2 separate regions of the Homo sapiens genome follow, and region 1 is linked to region 2. The links come from fine-mapping of genetic effects on gene expression. Tissue or cell type: whole blood. Region 2 holds a variant in brackets; the other region holds the start of a gene. All regions are shown on one strand. Distances are between the middles of the regions.

Region 1 (8,094 bases), 210 kb after region 2:
TTGTAGGTAGAAAAAGAAAAATTTTAATCAGTGTGAAATACATCAAAAATAAAGAAAACAATAAGAAACCACACCCCTTACACTAAAGTAAGAAAACCGAGCCTCAGTGTCCCCATCTGTAAACTGGAGATGACAACAGATGCCCTCCTTAGCTGCTGTGAGGATTAAATGATGACCCATGTAAAACACCTGACCCTGTATGACTATTACCAGAAAAACATCATGTGCCCAAATGTAAACTAAAATAATAAACTAATGTAAACTAAAAACACTTGAGGAGGCCAGGCGCGGTGGCTCACGCCTGTAATCCCAGCACTTTGGGAGGCCGAGGCAGGCGGATCACGAGGTCAGGAGATCAAGACCATCCTGGCCAACATAGTGAAACCCCGTCTCTACTAAAAATACAAAAATTAGCTGGGCATGGTGGCGCATGCCTGTAATCCCAGCTACTCGGGAGGCAGAGGCAGGAGAATCCCTTGAACCAGGGAGCTGGAGGATGCAGTGAGCTGAGATCGCGCCACAGCACTCTAGCCTGGAGACAGAGCGAGACTCCGTCTCAAAAAAAAGAAAAAAAAACAAAAAAAACACATGAGGAGCAGATGTTGTTTCCTTAGCAGAAAGGAATTAAGTAGCTCAGACACATCTCCCCCCAGCCTAGAGTGACATCTGGAACTCAAGCCACTATCACAGGTCGGCTAAAACCAACCAGCCAGGCAAGCAAGACAGGGACACTTCTTGGCATTTGATCCTGGCAAAGCACATGCATGTGCCAGCACCACACACCAAGGCCTCCGTGGTCATCTGTAACTGAATGATCAAAATCAGCAGCTTCTATTCTTACCAAGGTGCGGGTCCAACAGATGAGGCTGCTCCTGGTATTTGTCCATTATTACTAAAAACAAATATAACATGAAAATTAATTATCACTAGGCCAAACATACCCATGAGCCTCAGAAACCCCATTTTCCCTTGCTAGCTTCCACAGGGCAGCTCCACCTCTTCCCCAGCTCTCAAGAGCACACCTCCCCTCTCACTAAAGGAGGCCACACAGGCCACCTGGAGGGAATGCCCCACCTCCCTCTAGCCTTTTGAGGGCCACTGTGGCCCAGCCTCGTGCAGTTTACTTGCTTGGCACACTGTTCCTCTTTTCCCACTGCCTCGATACTCTTCCTAACAGAGTCTCCTCCTCGCCTCTTCCTTCCTTCACTCTCTCCTGCCTCTGCCAGCCGTTAAGGGCCAAGCTCAACTCTGTCCTTGTGAGACACACATCCCTGGCACTCCTCTCACACTCCCCTGCCAAACATGCCTGTAAACTAAAAACAAAATTCTAAGCCCCCTAGCCATCTAACAGACCCCTCCTCTTGGCCAAGGGCATTCCAAACTTAACCTGAAAAACTAGTTCAGGCCTCATGATATTAAGGGATTGTGGGGAGTGGTCCACATAGGCCTCATTATACCCTCCTCTCGTTGGAATTCAGGCACAGCTGATCAGTATTAGCATTAAAACCGATCTTAAGTAGCAATAAGACACCAAATTCCAGCCTGACTCTAGTACAGCATCACATGACAGACAGCAGGCCCTGAAAGAAATCAAAATATTTTTCCCTAAAATATATTTGACATATTTTGAAATGGTTCTGCTAAGTTGTCTCTTGCTGGGAAAAGCTACATTCTGTAGAGAATCCCTTCCTTTTCTAGGTCTTTTCCCTGATCCAAGAGAAAATTAACTAAGTCTGGTACCTTTTTAGTCTGATGAAAAGCATTTACAATCTATTCTCTCTGAAACCAGCTAACTGGAACCTTCATCTGCATAAGAAAAACCTTGGTCTCCACAATTTATCTTAACCTAGACAATCCCTTCTATGGATTCCAGGTCTTCAGATAAACTCTTTCAACCAATCACCAATCGTGAAATATTTGAATCCACCAATGCCCTGGACGCCCTCCCACCCAAGATGTCCCGCCTTCCCTGACGAGACCAATGTACATCTTACAGGTATTGATTGATGTCTCACGTCTCCCTAAAACGTGTAAAACTAAGCTGTAGCCCGACTTCCTTGGGGACATGTGACCTCCTGAGGCTGCCTCACGGGCACACCCTTAACCTTCTAAACTGATTGAGACTCGTCTCAGATACTTTTTGGTTGACATATCCAGGCACTGCTCCCTTCCACACAGCTGCCAGCTCTTCACAACCTCCCAGACCCTGAACCACCGCTTTCTCCTCCTCTCAGCAGCTGAAACTGCTTCTGTCCAATCCGGCAGCTCCCACCTCCACATCTGAACACACCCACTGCTTCCCAGCAAAACTGCCTTTGCAAAAGTGATCTGTGAGGAAATTATGGCAATGGGGCAGATCTGATCCAGGCAACCCCCTCATGCCTTTAGTCTTCAAGCTGCCAAGCTACCTCTGGGAGACATTTAATTTATAGTTTAAATGCTAAGAGCCCTTCCCCAAAACTCAACTGCCTTTGTAAAGTTAATGAGAGGCCACCAGGCTAGGAGGAGGAGAGGAGCCTGAATTCCGCTAAGGCGTAACCTAATTGCCAGCCATTATTCTTGAGATCACAAGACATGCGAGTTCCCCAGTTACTCCTGCAGACCATGTCACTATTGCAGAACCTGAGACTGGCCTTTAAAGATATCTTTTCAGATTGTTTCCATGTCTGACACCTACACTAGGATCCACGGACCCATGATAGCTCCACCTGGACCCGCCCACTGCTCCTGGGGCCCCACGCAGACGCGATTCAGCACATCACGGAGGATCATTTCCGACTCCCCTATGATTGTATACCCCTAACCAATCAGCCACCCCCACCCTTTCCCCCAGATTACCTCTAAAAAACCCTGGCCCTCAAATTCTCAGGGAGACTGATCTGAGTAATAATAAAACTCCAGCCGGGCGTGGTGGCTCACTTTGGGAGGCTGAGGCGGGTGGATCACGAGGTCAGGAGATCGAGACCATCCTGGCTAACACGATGAAACCCGTCACTACTAATAATACGAAAAATTAGGTGGGCGTGGTGGCGCGCACCTGTAGTCCCAGCTACTCGGGAGGCTGAGGCAGGAGAATCACTTGAACCTGGGAGGTGGAGGTTGTGGAGGTTGCAGTGAGCTGAGATCTCATCACTGCACTCCACCCTGGGGGACAAAGTGAGACTCCGCCTCAAAAAAAAAAAAAAAAACCTCTAGTCTAGTCTCCCTTTCAACCGGCTCTGCGTGAACTAAATCTTCTCCATGGCAACTCCCCTGCCCTGACAAATCAACTCTATCTGGGCAGCCCGCAGAAAGAACCCACTGGGGCCGAGCGCAGTGGCTCACACCTGTAATCTCAACACTTTGGGAGGCTGAGTCGGGCGACCACTTGAGGTCAGGAGTTTGAGACCAGCCTGACCAACATGGTGAAACCCCCTCTACTAAAAATACAAAATTAGCCGGGCGTGGTGGCGCGCGCCTGTAGCCCCAGCTACTCGGGAGGCTAAGACAGGAGAATAGCTTGAACCTGAGAGGTTGAGGTTGCAGTGAGCCAAGATCGCACCACTGCACTGCACTCCAGCCTGGGCAACAGAGCAAGACTTCGTATCAAAAAAAAAAAAAAAAAAAAAAGGAAGAAGCCATTGGGCTGTTACACCAGGAACAAAAAATCTGGCTTCACTGGTCCCTGGATGAGGGTCCCTCACCCTCAGAACAGTTCTGCACGAGAGGCATCGTTATCCGCCCCAGCTTACACCCGAAGAAACAGGCAATCAAGTATCAGGTCCAAGCGACAGGGCCAGAATTCACAGGCAGGAGGATCTGACGCCGAACCCGCACTCCTCCCACAAGGCCCCCCACCCTGCCTGACTCCTAAAATCAAAGCGCTGTCATTCTAAAATGAGGAAGGCCAAATAATGCAAAAGTTCTTCTTACTCAAAGGGTCTACAAAGATGATTTTACTGAATTACAAAACCCCATGTAACTACTTAGCTATGAGCTCCTAAGGACTTGTTTGGAAATAACCCATTATAGACAGCGGTAAAGGTGGGTCTGAACTCGGAGAATTTAGACTCATCGAATGGCCTCCACAGGGGTACCTACACCCCACCCCGCCTGCAGAGGCACGGACCCGGCCAGCCCGCTCTGTCCACGGCGTCCACGGAACGGACAGGCTGCTGCCCTCCCCACCCGAGGCGCGCTTTGTTTGCAGCAGGTTTGTTCCCTGCGTCCCCCTCTCTCATTCCCTATCTCCCTGTCCACACAACATTCACAGAAACCGCGCTCGGTGGAGGCAAGCCTGGGAGTCCACACTGCAGGGCTGACCAGCTGTCCGGAGGGGTCTGGCCCGAGTCTCCCCAGCCCAGGGACCTCCTCCAGTGACGGAGACGGGGGACGGAGGGCTTCTGCACCCCGCCTCCCGGGGAGGCCGCAGAGGCTTCACCCCGTGCGAGAGCAGGCGCTCCGCGGGCCACGGTCCCCCCAAGGGAGGCGCGCGTCTGCCCCGTGCACCTAACGCCGCGCCGGGGTGGCCCTCTCCCGCCTAGGAAGGCCGCGCCCCACCACGGCCCGCGGGACCGCGCACCGGCAGCCCTCGCAGAGCGGCCGGCGCCGCCGGGCTGCGGTCCCCGCCCGGTAAAGTGCACTCAGCGCGCCGAACCCGGGCCGGGGGAGGAAGCGGGCACGCGGCGCCGCCCACGCACCGCGGAACCGCTCCAGGGCCACCTCGCGCTCCGCGCCGCCGCCGTGCACCTCCCGCAGGCGGCCCAGCAGCGCCCGGGTCTCCGCGCTCTCGCCGAACGCTTCCAGCGCCGCGCCAAAGGCCAGTGTCTCGTCCTCCGCCTCCTCCTCGGGGCCGCCCGCGGCCGGTTCGTCGCTCAGGGCCATCTCGGCAGCCTGGGGACCGCGCCCCCGCCTCACGTGTTCGCAGATCCCACTCCGCTAGAGCGCGAAAGCCAGGGATGAAGGATGAGGGATGAAAAGGAGGCGCCCGCTAAGGCGGCAACCGACGCTGGCCCCGCCCCGCGACCTCCGACCCCACTCGCCGGCCTCGCTACGGAACGCGTCGGCCGCCAAAATACCGCGCGCGGGACGGCGCGTGCACTTGAGGACGCGAGCGGGCACGGGTCCCAAAGGCTCTGGAAGAGCGCGCCGTGGACCCCACAGGGCGCGAGCGGAGCCGGGACCGCTCAGCGGGGCCTGAGCACGCGGTGGGCGGGGCAGGACAGGAGGTGGGGCCTGAGACGCGGTGGGCCGGGCTGCGGGGTGAGGCCGCCGCCGGAGGACAGCGGGGCGGAGCCTGAGCAGGCGGTGTGCGGGGGGGCGGGGCTTCGGGATGGGGCCGGGGGCCGCCAGGGCGGGGCTTGAGCACGCGATAGGGGGCGGGGCTGCGCGCAACGGGGGCGGGGCCCGGGCACGCGTGGGTGGGAGGGGCAGGGCTTGCGGTGGGGCCGGAGACAGCGGGGCGGAGCCACAACACGCCGGGGGGCGGGGCGGGGGCGGGGCGGGGGCGGGTGGGACCGGGGGACCGCGGAGCGGGGCGGAGCCTCAGCATGCGTGGACGGGGAGGGGCGGGGCCTGAGCACGCAGTCGGGGGCGCGAGGCGAGCCCCGGGACCCACCCCTCAGAGCCAACCGCCCTGACACTTATTCGCGCCACGCTGGGACCCGCGCGGATCACACGGGCCCCGCGCCGAGTGGTGGCGCGCCCCAGAGCGGGAGCGGGAGCGGGGCCCGGAGGCCGCGGTGGGCGCTGCGCCGACTTTGGCCTTGGCTACCGGGTCCGCGTGCGTTTCCCCTGAATCGCCGCAAAAACGTCCGTGCACAGCTCGCCGTGCGTCTGGCCCTGAAAGCAGCCCCACGAGCGGAGGAACGAGGCGCAGGACGCCAGCCGAGACCCGCTGCGGGCTTTATTGGTCCCCAGGATCTGGGAGGGGTCGGGGGAAGGGGGACAGGGACAGGGGGGACGGGGACGGGGGACGGGGACGGGGGGACGGCGATGGGAGACGGGGATGGAGGATGGGGACGGGGGAACGGAGACGGGGACGGGGCAGGGGGGACGGGGACGGAGATGGGGGACGGGGATGGGGGGTCGGGGACAGGGGGATTGGTATGTGGACAGGGGGACAGGGGGACGGGGGACAGGGATGGAGGGACGGGGACGGGGGGACGGGGACAGGAGGATGGGGGGACGGGGGGATGGAGACGGAGGGACGGGGAGACGGGAACAGGGGGACAGGGACGGGGGCACAGGGACGGGGGACGGGGGGACAGGGACGGGGAGACGGAGACGGGGACGGGGACAGGGGAAGGGAGGGCAGGGGCCGCTACTTGAGCAGCCTTCGCATGGTGCCCAAGGAAGGGCTCCTGTACTCCCGCCCGAAGTGGTTCCAGTGGTTCAGGTAGTTAAACAGCTGGTAGAGCAGCAGCCGCTGGTCGAAGCCCGGAGCCTTGGGGATCTTCCGGTGGTAGGCGGTGAAGAAGGATCTGGGGAACCCCCCAAACATCAAGGCGATTGCCAGTTCAAACTCGGAATGGCCATAGAAGGAAGCCGGGTCGTAAATAATGGGCCCCACGTCGTCCTCAGCCACGTTTCCCGACCAGAGATCCCCGTGGAGCAACGCGGGGACAATCTCTAGGCCACAAAACAGATCCGGGATCTTCACCTACGAGAGCAACGGCTGCAGTTATCGCTGGCCTCTGGGAGCCCCGGTCTCATCACCTCGTTCTTGGAAATAAGGCAAAGCCCACTCGCGATCTGCTTCGGTGTCCAGCCCCAGCACTGCCTGCCAAGCCCAGAAATAGGGGCCACCTGACTTCAGGGGAGTCTAGCTTTGTCTAACTTAGGATTTCCTCCTAATTTAGGTCTAGAATCCCCACACAGTGGAGAACCTCTGAGGTTATAGTTTTAATCGACCCACAGAATAGGAACCAGTGTTGCGCTACCTTAGCAAACTCTGGCCACTTTTATTTCGCTACACATATATGTCTGCAGGTTTTGTTTGGTTTTGTTGTTTTTTTCTTTGAGAGGGAATCTTGCTCTGTCACCCAGGCTGGAGTGCAGTGGCGCCATCTCGGCTCACTGCAACCTCCGCCTCCCGGATTCAAGTGATTCTCCTGCCTCAGCCTACTGAGTAGCTGGGATTACAGGCACCCGCCACTACACCCGGCTAATTTTTGTATTTTTAGTAGAGATGGGGTTTCACCATATTGGCCAGTCTGGTCTTGAAATCCTGACCTCAGGTAAAATCTATCCACCTCGGCCTCCCAAAGTGCTAGGATTACAGGCTTGAGCCACCGTGCCCAGCCTAGTTTCTTCATTAATGAGTTCAAGTCTCTTTGATGTATACTCACTCTGGATTGACATGCACATTCTTTTTTAACATTTTGAGAGTTATATTTTGATTTTTTTTCTTTTTGATACAGGATCTCACTCTGTCGTCCAGGCTGGAGTGCAATGGTGCAATCTCCCCTCACTGCAGCCTCCGCCTCCCGGGTTCAAGTGATTCTCCTGCCTCAGCCTCCTGAGTAGCTGGGATTACAGGCATGCACCACCATGCACGGTTAATTTTTGCATTTTTAGTACAGACAGGGTTTCACCATGTTGGCCAGGCTGGTCTCAAACTCCTGACCTCAAGTGATCTGCCCACCTAGGCCTCCCAAATGCTGCGATTACAGGCGTGAACCACTGTGCCCGGCCGAGAGTTATGTTTTGAAATCAGTCATTCTGGATCATCTGGTACCCACATCTTCCCATGGGAGAGGAACACGATGGAGTGGACAAGTGTTACTGATAGTAAGAACAGTAATCATGGTAAACACCACCATTTACAAGCACCTGTGTTTCACATGAGGAAAGTCTGAGGCTAAATACCTGGTGACCTAGCAGTGGAGAGGGGCACGAGGAGCCAAGTGTGTCTTCACTCCTCACTCCTTTCGGACTCCCTTTTGGGGGAACCCCCGCCCCTGCCCCCCTTCCTCCCTGATGTGTGCTCCAGGACTCAGTGTTCCCTGCTCCAGCTCCGTTTTACAGATGAACCCGCACAAATGCGGCGGGATCATGAGAGGACCAGCTCTTTCCCAGAGAAGTCACTGCCGTGCCCACCTGTAGCCGGGACCA
Region 2 (8,102 bases):
TCTCTCATTTCCACCACTGACGCCCCTGATGTCTTCAGCAAACATCAAACCCCAGCCAGGCGGCTCTGCTTCTGGTCTCTGTTCTGTTCCGTTTGTCTGTCTGCCCATAAGCTGATACCAATCAACCTTGATCACCATAGCTTTGTAGTAAATCTTGAAATACAGTCATGAAACTTCAACTTTGTTCATGGTTTTCAAAATTGTGCTGGCTCTCCTAGGTCCTTTGTGTTTCTATATACATTTTAGAATCTCCGTTGAGCCAGGCATGATGGCTCACACCTGTAATCCCAGCACTTTGGGAGGCTGAGCTGGGAGGATCGCTTGAGGCCGGGAGTTTAAGACCAGCCTGAGCAGTGTAGTGAGACCCCATCTCTACAAAAGAAATGTAAGAAAATAGCCAGGCACGGTGGTGTGCGCCTATAGTCCTAGCTGCTTGGGAGGTTCAGGTGGGAGGATCGCTTGAGGCCAGGGGTTTGAGGTCAGCCTGAGCAACAGAGTGACAAACATCTCTACAAAAAAAAAAAAAAAGTAAAAATCAGCCAGGTGTGGTGGCACACGCCTGTGGTCCCAGCTACCTGGGAGGCTGAGATAGGAGGATTGCTTGAGGAGGTCAAGGCTACAGTGAGTGATGATCACAGCACTGGAGAAGGGACACGTCAGCCACGTCATGAAGCCCCTTGAGCCCCGTCCCTGTGGAGAAGGGACACGTCGGCCCCGTGGTGAAGTCTCTTGAGGCCCTGACCCTGTGGAGAAGGGACACGGATTCATCTGTCACTTTCTCGTGACACTTTGTGGAAATAAACTGCAGGTTGTTTGTGACAAGCTGTTCTTTTCCGCTAACTCTGTCAACGTTAATTGCTTCTAGGTTTTCACCTCAAATGGCCCCACGGTGATCATGCCCACCTGGTTCTGCTCGCGAGCGTGGTTCTCCCACGTGGGCCCCTTTAACGAGGGAGGTCAGGTAAGGGCCGAAGGCGGGAATCAGGTCCCTCCCCCAGGTTCGGGGCCCTGTCTCTGTGTGTGGGCTCTGCACACTGGCCACCCTCCGCCTTGCCATGCCTCCGGGGCTCTGCAGATTTAGGAAACCCCTGCCTGAGGGTCCTCCCGGTGCCCCCTCCTGGCACCTGCCAGCATCTTAGTTGTTTTGCTGAAAGCAGGGGGTTTCTGCATGAAGGCTGTGGGTGCCCTGGGCATCTGCACCTGACCTACACTGGCTCCAGGTTACTGCATCCTGGTTTAAAAGCTGTGTCTGGGAAAGCGCAGGACACGGAAGCTTTTGGCAGAGCTGTCTCTGGGACAACAGAGGGAGAAGGGGAGCCCATCCTCCCCCCGGGGGTGCACCTGCAGGCGTCTGTGTCCCCGTCCCCCCCATGGGGGTGCACCTGCAGGCGTCCATGTCCCCGTCCCCCCCGTGGGAGTGCACCTGCAGGCGTCTGTGTCCCCATCCCCCCCGTGGGAGTGCACCTGCAGGTGTCTGTGTCCCCGTCCTCCCCATGGGGGTGCACCTGCAGGCATCCGTGTCCCCGTCCTCCCCATGGGGGTGCACCTGCAGGCGTCCATGTCCCCGTCCTCCCTGTGGGTGTGCACCTGCAGGTGTCCATGTCCCCGTCCTCCCTGTGGGAGTGCACGTTCAGGCATCCATGTCCCCGTTCTCCTGTGGGGGTGCACCTGCAGGCGTCCGTGTCCCCGTCCTCCCGTGGGGGTGCACCTGCAGGCGTCCGTGTCACCGTCCCCCCCGTGGGGGTGCACCTGCAGGCGTCCGTGTCCCCGTCCTCCCCGTGGGGTGCACCTGCAGGCGTCCGTGTCCCCATCCCCCCGTGGGGGTGCACCTGCAGGCGTCCGTGTCCCCGTCCCCCCCGTGGGGGTGCACCTGCAGGCGTCCGTGTCCCCGTCCCCCCGTGGGGGTGCACCTGCAGGCGTCTGTGTCCCCGTCCCCCCCGTGGGGGTGCACCTGTAGGCGTCCGTGTCCCCGTCCTCCCCGTGGGGGTGCACCTGCAGGCATCCATGTCTCCGTCCTCCCCGTGGGGTGCACCTGCAGGCGTCCGTGTCCCCGTCCCCCCGTGGGGGTGCACCTGCAGGCGTCCGTGTCCCCATCCCCCGTGGGACGCACCTGTAGGCGTCCGTTTTAAATACTAGCTATGTCTATTGTTTTTTGTGTTTTAAAAACTCCAATTCTATGTTGGTTAGATTTTCTTAGTCTTTCTAACCCTTTTCACTTCTTTCATTATATAATTTCTATTTTCCTTTCTTCAGTGTCCCTTATTAAATTTTTAATTAAAATCATTTTCTCTTAAGGATTTTGTAATTTAGTCTTCATTTTTCATATATTTTGTTCCTTTTTTTTTTTTTTTTTTTTGAGACAGGGTCTCACTCTGTTCCTGAGGCTGGAGTGCAGTGGCTCACTCACTACAACCTCTGCCTCCCAGGTTCAAGCAATCCTTGTACCTCAGCCTCCTGAGTAGCTGAGACTACAGGTGCACACAACCATGCCCAGCTACTTTTTTCCTATTTTTGGTAGAGACTGGTTTCGACATGTTGCCCAGGCTGGTCTCGAACTCCTGGGCTCAAGCAATCCACCCCCCCGACCTCAGCCTTCCAAAGTGCTGAGATTAAAGGCATGAGCCACCACACCCAACCAATTTTGTCTCTTCTTAAAATTTCTTTTTTTAGTTAAATCGATCCAATTTTATATAAAAGCTTTATTGAGGTATAATTCACATGCCATACAATTCACCTATTAAAATGTGCAATTCAATTTTTTTTTAGCAAATTTATAGGGCTGTACAATCACCAGTCACCACTACCATCTAATGTTAGGAAGTTGTCATCCCCCAAAAAACACTTCCTGCACCCAGGGGCGCACCTCATCTAACAGCCACCTGCCAGCCCTAGCCAAGCACTAATGCACTTTCTTCAATGCTCTAGACCCACCCCATTAGGGTCCAGTTTTGCACTTAGTCCTTGAATTTCTGATTCAAGATGGGTCTCCGCCACCTCCCCGCATATCCCACCCTGTAGCCTGAAACACTGGTGGAGGGTGTGGAATTTATCTTGGTGGGTTATTTACAGGGGTCTCTGTTTCCTGGTTTGGGGTTTGTTGCTATTGTAGAGGGAGAGGCTGAATTTTTATCCATGGAAGTGTTGCCAGTTTTTAGTTTTCTCTGCTGGACTTCATGTCCCTGCGTTCCGCGGACTCCAATCGCTGGGCCCTGGCTCGAGCTCTCCCCCTTCTGTCCCCGCGTGGTGACTGCTGCTTCCTCCTGGAGGTTCGCGCTGGGGATGGGGCTCTAGAGAAGGGCGGGTGGCGCTGGGGACGAGCCCTGGGGAAGGAAGCGCGTCCCTGACTCGGCTTCCTTTTGCCTCAGGATCCGAGTCTCCACAGCCTCTGGCCCGGCCTTCCTGGGAGTGGCTTTAGCTCACGCTTTTCTCCTCCAGGCAGTTCTGGGTGCTCCATCCCC[C/A]AAGGCTGCCCGAGGATGGTTCTGTGAGCAGATTGGGGCTGGGCGGCGGCCACACTTCCTCCACTCGGCTTCTTCCCTGATGCCTTTCTGGGTTGTGACCCCTCCCCCTCTCCCTGCGCCCCGCCAGGGGTCCTCCACACCACAGGGCAGTCCAGGCACCTGGAGGCTGATTGGGAAAAGCCTGGGGGAGGAGTGAGGCCATTTCGGGCCTCTCAGGTCTCAGCAGCAGCAATCAGGGGAGGGGAGAAAAATGGGACAGATCCTCTGCGTCCCCCTCCTCCCAGGGCAGAGGCACCACCCGGGAGCGGCTGTTGACTAAATTCTCACTTTACTGCCAGAAAATAAGAAAACCCCAAGGGTCGGGCTCTTCTGGTGATAGGAAGAGAGAAACCTTTTTTCTCTTCTTAAACCTGTAACATGTTGAGAGTTCCAGTGCTCTTTAGAGCTGCCTTTGAAGACACAGAAAATTAAAGAAAATACCTCAGTGACCCCTGCGAGGGTCCGTGTCCACCAGCACCCGCGGGAGCCTCCACCCTAAATCACCCGTGTGAGGGTCCGTGCCCACCAGCACCCACAGGAACCTCCACCCTAAATCACCCGTGTGAGGGTCCGTGTCCACCAGCACCCGCGGGAGCCTCCACCCTAAATCACCCGTGTGAGGGTCCGTGTCCACCAGCACCCGCGGGACCCTCCACCCTAAATCACCCGTGTGAGACAGCATGTGGGCTTCTGTGATTCCTTTGTCTTTATCTTATGGTGGATAAACTTTTAGCAGGGCTGACACATGATTTTGAGGTCTGTTCTTTGACTCAGCATCTTCTTACAAATCTTTCCATGTCATCGTGGTTTTTGTAAAAGGGATCGCCCTGGAGAGGCGGAGGTTAAACAGTGCCTTTTTTTTGGACGTGGAACCATAGCACTGCCTGTCTGTCCTGGGAGCAAACAGGCCAGCGGTTGGGCCGTGATAGTTTGGGGACTTTACTGACCTGCACTTGAAGTTTGTGTACCAGCCAAGGAGAGAAGAGGCTGGACTTGGTGATAGACTGGCCCTGCTGCTAGGCTCTCAGAAAACCTGCCCTTTCCTGGAGCAAAGGTGTCTCCGGGCGGCTGACCCAGGTGAGCTGCCGCAGAGAACCACGAGGAGACCAGACTCCACGCCCTGCTCCTCCCTCAGTTTTGTTTGAATTTAAGAAAGCGACAGGGGCCCGGCTCCACACAAGGCCCAGAGCCCTGGGCTGAGGATTGGGGTCACCCAGGAGAGGAGCAAGCAGAGGGCAGGGGCCACTGGGATCATGGGCCGGGGAAAGCAGGGCCCAGGTTCTCACAGGACAGAAAAGTCTGGTGGGAATGCCTGCAGAATGTTCTGGAGCAGAGTCCCACTGACATGGAGGGAGTGTTCGGGGATAAGCCCCGTGGGCTGAGGTTCAAGTTTCTGAGCTTGGACAAGTGAGCAGGGCTGGCACAGGCCCGGGGCTGCCTCCCCACTGCTGGGCTCCCCTGCCCGCAGCCCCACACGCCCACCCAGCACCACTGTCCTCTGCCCACAGTCGGCACTTTGAGTCCCTTGAGCTTCTGGGGCTGCAGCCACTGGCAGGAAAGGATGGGGACGGAGGCCGGACCAGCCATCCAGGAGCCGTGGCTGTGAGACCCTGACCCACCCCAGCCCCTTTCCTCGGCTGCCTGTCTTCCTCTTTGCCCTGAGACCTTTACTGCTCAAAATGGAATTTGGGGCAGAACCAAGACCCAGCCCACCCTCCCTTCCCCTCTTTCCCGCCTGTGGAGAAGCTCGGTTGCTCACGTCTGTTGTGGTCGCCGCCCCACGTCCCTGTTGAGCCTCTAGACCGGTTTCTTTGCAACAAAAGCCTTTTCCACCGGTTCCTGGTTGGCCGGCTGAGCGCAGGTGTAGTGTGCATCCGGGGCAGGCACGCGTTTCTGGGGCCCCAGTGATGCCTCTGCTTCTCCCGCCCTGCAGGGCGTCCCGGAGGACCTGCTGTTCTTCTACGAGCACCTCAGGAAGGGCGGCGGCGTCATCCGCGTGGACCAGAGTCTCCTGCTGTATCGCCACCACCCACAGGCGGCCACGCACTGCGTCCTCGAGTGAGTCAGCCCCGCCCGGCCCCGGGACGCCTGAGAGGCCAGGAACACGGGAGGCGCCCGAGGTCGGGGCCGGGGTTGGTGGGGCCGACCCCAGAGGCTGTGGTCAGGCTCTGCCTTGAGACCCAGGGTCTGGTGGGACACGGGGCAACAGCACATCCCGAGGGTGGCGGGGATTCGGCGTCCACGAAGGGGCATTTCCCAAGGGCGCCAGGGAGCGCCAGGGTGAAGGCCGAACGTCCTTCCCTAGTTCCCAGAGGTAAAATGACCACGCGCCGGGTCCTTCTGAAACCCTGTGCTCCCTTTAACCCGACGGGAGTCTCATGAGTGGGGTCCGGCGGGGACCACAGGCCTGGGGGGCGCAGCTGCCGTGGAGGGTGGCAGAGGCACGGCCAGGGAATCGCAGCACCCAGTGAGGACGCGCCCAGTGCTGCGGGGTCCGCCTCCCTCTCCCGTGTCACTGTGAGGAGCGGCCACGTGGGCCCGGGTCTGGGGGTGCCGCGTGGCTGCGTTGGAGCCGTGGCAGGGGTGAGGCAAATCGGGGTGAAACTGCATGTAGAATTCCTTCCTTAGATCCGGGCAGACAGTTCCCTCCTTAGAACTGTGAGGACACAGAGGTCTCGGCCACCTGCCTGCCGCGTGCCGCAGCGTTAAGTTGGAAAGCAGGCCGCCGTCCGAGGCTTGCGTCTCGGCCCCTACGGGTACTCAGGGCCCCCGGAGTCTCAAGACCCCAACTAGGGTCATGTGTGGGTGTGGGAGCCGCGATGGTCCCAGGCCTGCCGTGATGGGGTTGAGACTCTCGGCAAGATCCCAGCTCCCCAGGGGGTCTAAGGTCCAAGGTCACGGGGTGGGGCTGGGGGGTTGGCAGGAGGGCCACGAGCTTCCCCATTGGGGGCATCATCCTCACTCCTGCATGCTGGGGCCTCCCGCGTCCGCGCTCCTCTCCCTTATGCCCACCGGCACCTTGGCCGCCTCCTCATGCGGTGACGTGTCCCTGACACTTCAGCTCCTTTGCAACATTTCCAGAAATGCTGTCTTGTGCTTTTGGGAAAAACTGGGTTTCCACCTTTCCCGGTGCTAAGGCGGGGCCACGGCTTCCTCTGAGGATGTAAAAAGAGAGGCATAGGGCGCCCTGGGGAGCCTGTTCTCCCTGATTAAATGAGAACTTTTTAAAATGTGAAAAATGAAGATGAACCAAATACAGACATCATGGCTGCTTCTACATTTTACCTTCCTACGATGGGCCAACATTTTCAGACCAGAGACCCCTAGGAAAGCCCAGGAGACAAGGGGCCGTCGAGGAGGCCGGTGTCAGAGGCCCCCCAAACCTCGCGTGCCACCCACGGCCACAGAGGCCCCCCGCTTTCTTCTGGAGCCCTGACTGCTTTCCTGTCACGTGAACCCCCTGGGGTCCCTAAGCTGATGTCAGTGGATGAGGAGGATCAGGCTCGTCCCCCCGCCCCGAGACACCCAACACACCCGGGCTGCTAAGGACAAGATGCCAAAACCCGGCGAGGCTGCGTCACCTGGTGGGGAAGTCCCCGCAGCCGTCTGCAGGAGCTGTCCTCACCCAGGTTCTCACACACACACACACACTGCACGTGCACACAGACCACATGTACAGCATGCACACACATACGTGCACGAAAGTATACACACGTACTCACTGCACACGCTCACTGCACACACGCACTCACGTGCACACACACTGCATGTACACACATCTGCACGGTACATGCAGGCATGTGCACTCACTGCATACATGTACTCATACTGCATGCACAGGCCCTCACTGCACACACGTGTACACATGCGTGTACACACATCCACACAGTACATACAGGCATGTACTCCGAACACCTGCACACACTGTACACGTGCTCATGTACACATGCACTCACCACACATGCACACTGTGCACACACAACATACACCCCCACACAGTGTACACACACACCATACACCCCCACACATACACACCATACACCCCCAGTGTACACACACACACACCATACACCCCCACAGTATACACACACACCATACACCCCCACACAGTATACACACACACACACCATACACCCCCACAGTGTACACACACACACATACACCCCCACACAGTATACACACACACACACCATACACCCCCACACAGTATACACACACACACCATACACCCCCAGTGTACACACACACACACACCATACACCCCCAGTGTACACACACACACACCATACACCCCCACACAGTATACACACACACACACATGCTTCAGTGTCCCCAAGTCACTGACTGGGATAAGCATCTCCCTGTGTCCCAGGTGGGGTCCGGACTATTGAGGTGGCTGCAGAGGGTTGGGGAGGAAAAGGTAGACTCCAGGCAGGACCTCCCTGACAGTGCCTAAGCCCTGCAGCTCCCTGAGCTGACAGAGGGGACCCCGTGTCCCCCCATCCCCCCCATCCCATTGCCTGTGGGGGTTCTGCTACAAACAGGGGGTGCCACAGGGTTGGGGGGGAGTCACAAGTTTATCCCGGGAGGCGGAGGCAGCAGCAG

Evidence for each region. PIP is the estimated chance that this variant, and not a neighbour inherited with it, causes the effect.
Region 1: it holds the start of TBCD, and the variant in region 2 is fine-mapped to the expression of TBCD in whole blood (TOPMed, PIP above 0.99).

What each region holds. Positions count from the first base shown.
Region 1 is chr17:82,748,963-82,757,056 of GRCh38, reverse strand. It overlaps TBCD (tubulin folding cofactor D), which reads right to left and starts at 4,992. Exons shown (of 39, transcript NM_005993.5): 1 at 4,680-4,992; 2 at 842-892. The coding sequence starts at 4,863. FN3K (fructosamine 3 kinase) reads right to left here. Exons shown (of 6, transcript NM_022158.4): 5 at 8,080-8,094; 6 at 5,861-6,640. The coding sequence ends at 6,302. RefSeq lists an enhancer at 1,790-2,084 and silencers at 4,431-4,750, 5,441-5,800.
Region 2 is chr17:82,958,510-82,966,611 of GRCh38, reverse strand. It overlaps QTGAL (queuosine-tRNA galactosyltransferase), which reads left to right. Exons shown (of 13, transcript NM_001009905.3): 7 at 866-961; 8 at 5,431-5,555. Among named protein-coding and RNA genes, the nearest start is that of QTGAL, 89 kb to the left of the region's middle. The variant C/A (reference allele first, on the strand shown) is at 3,459.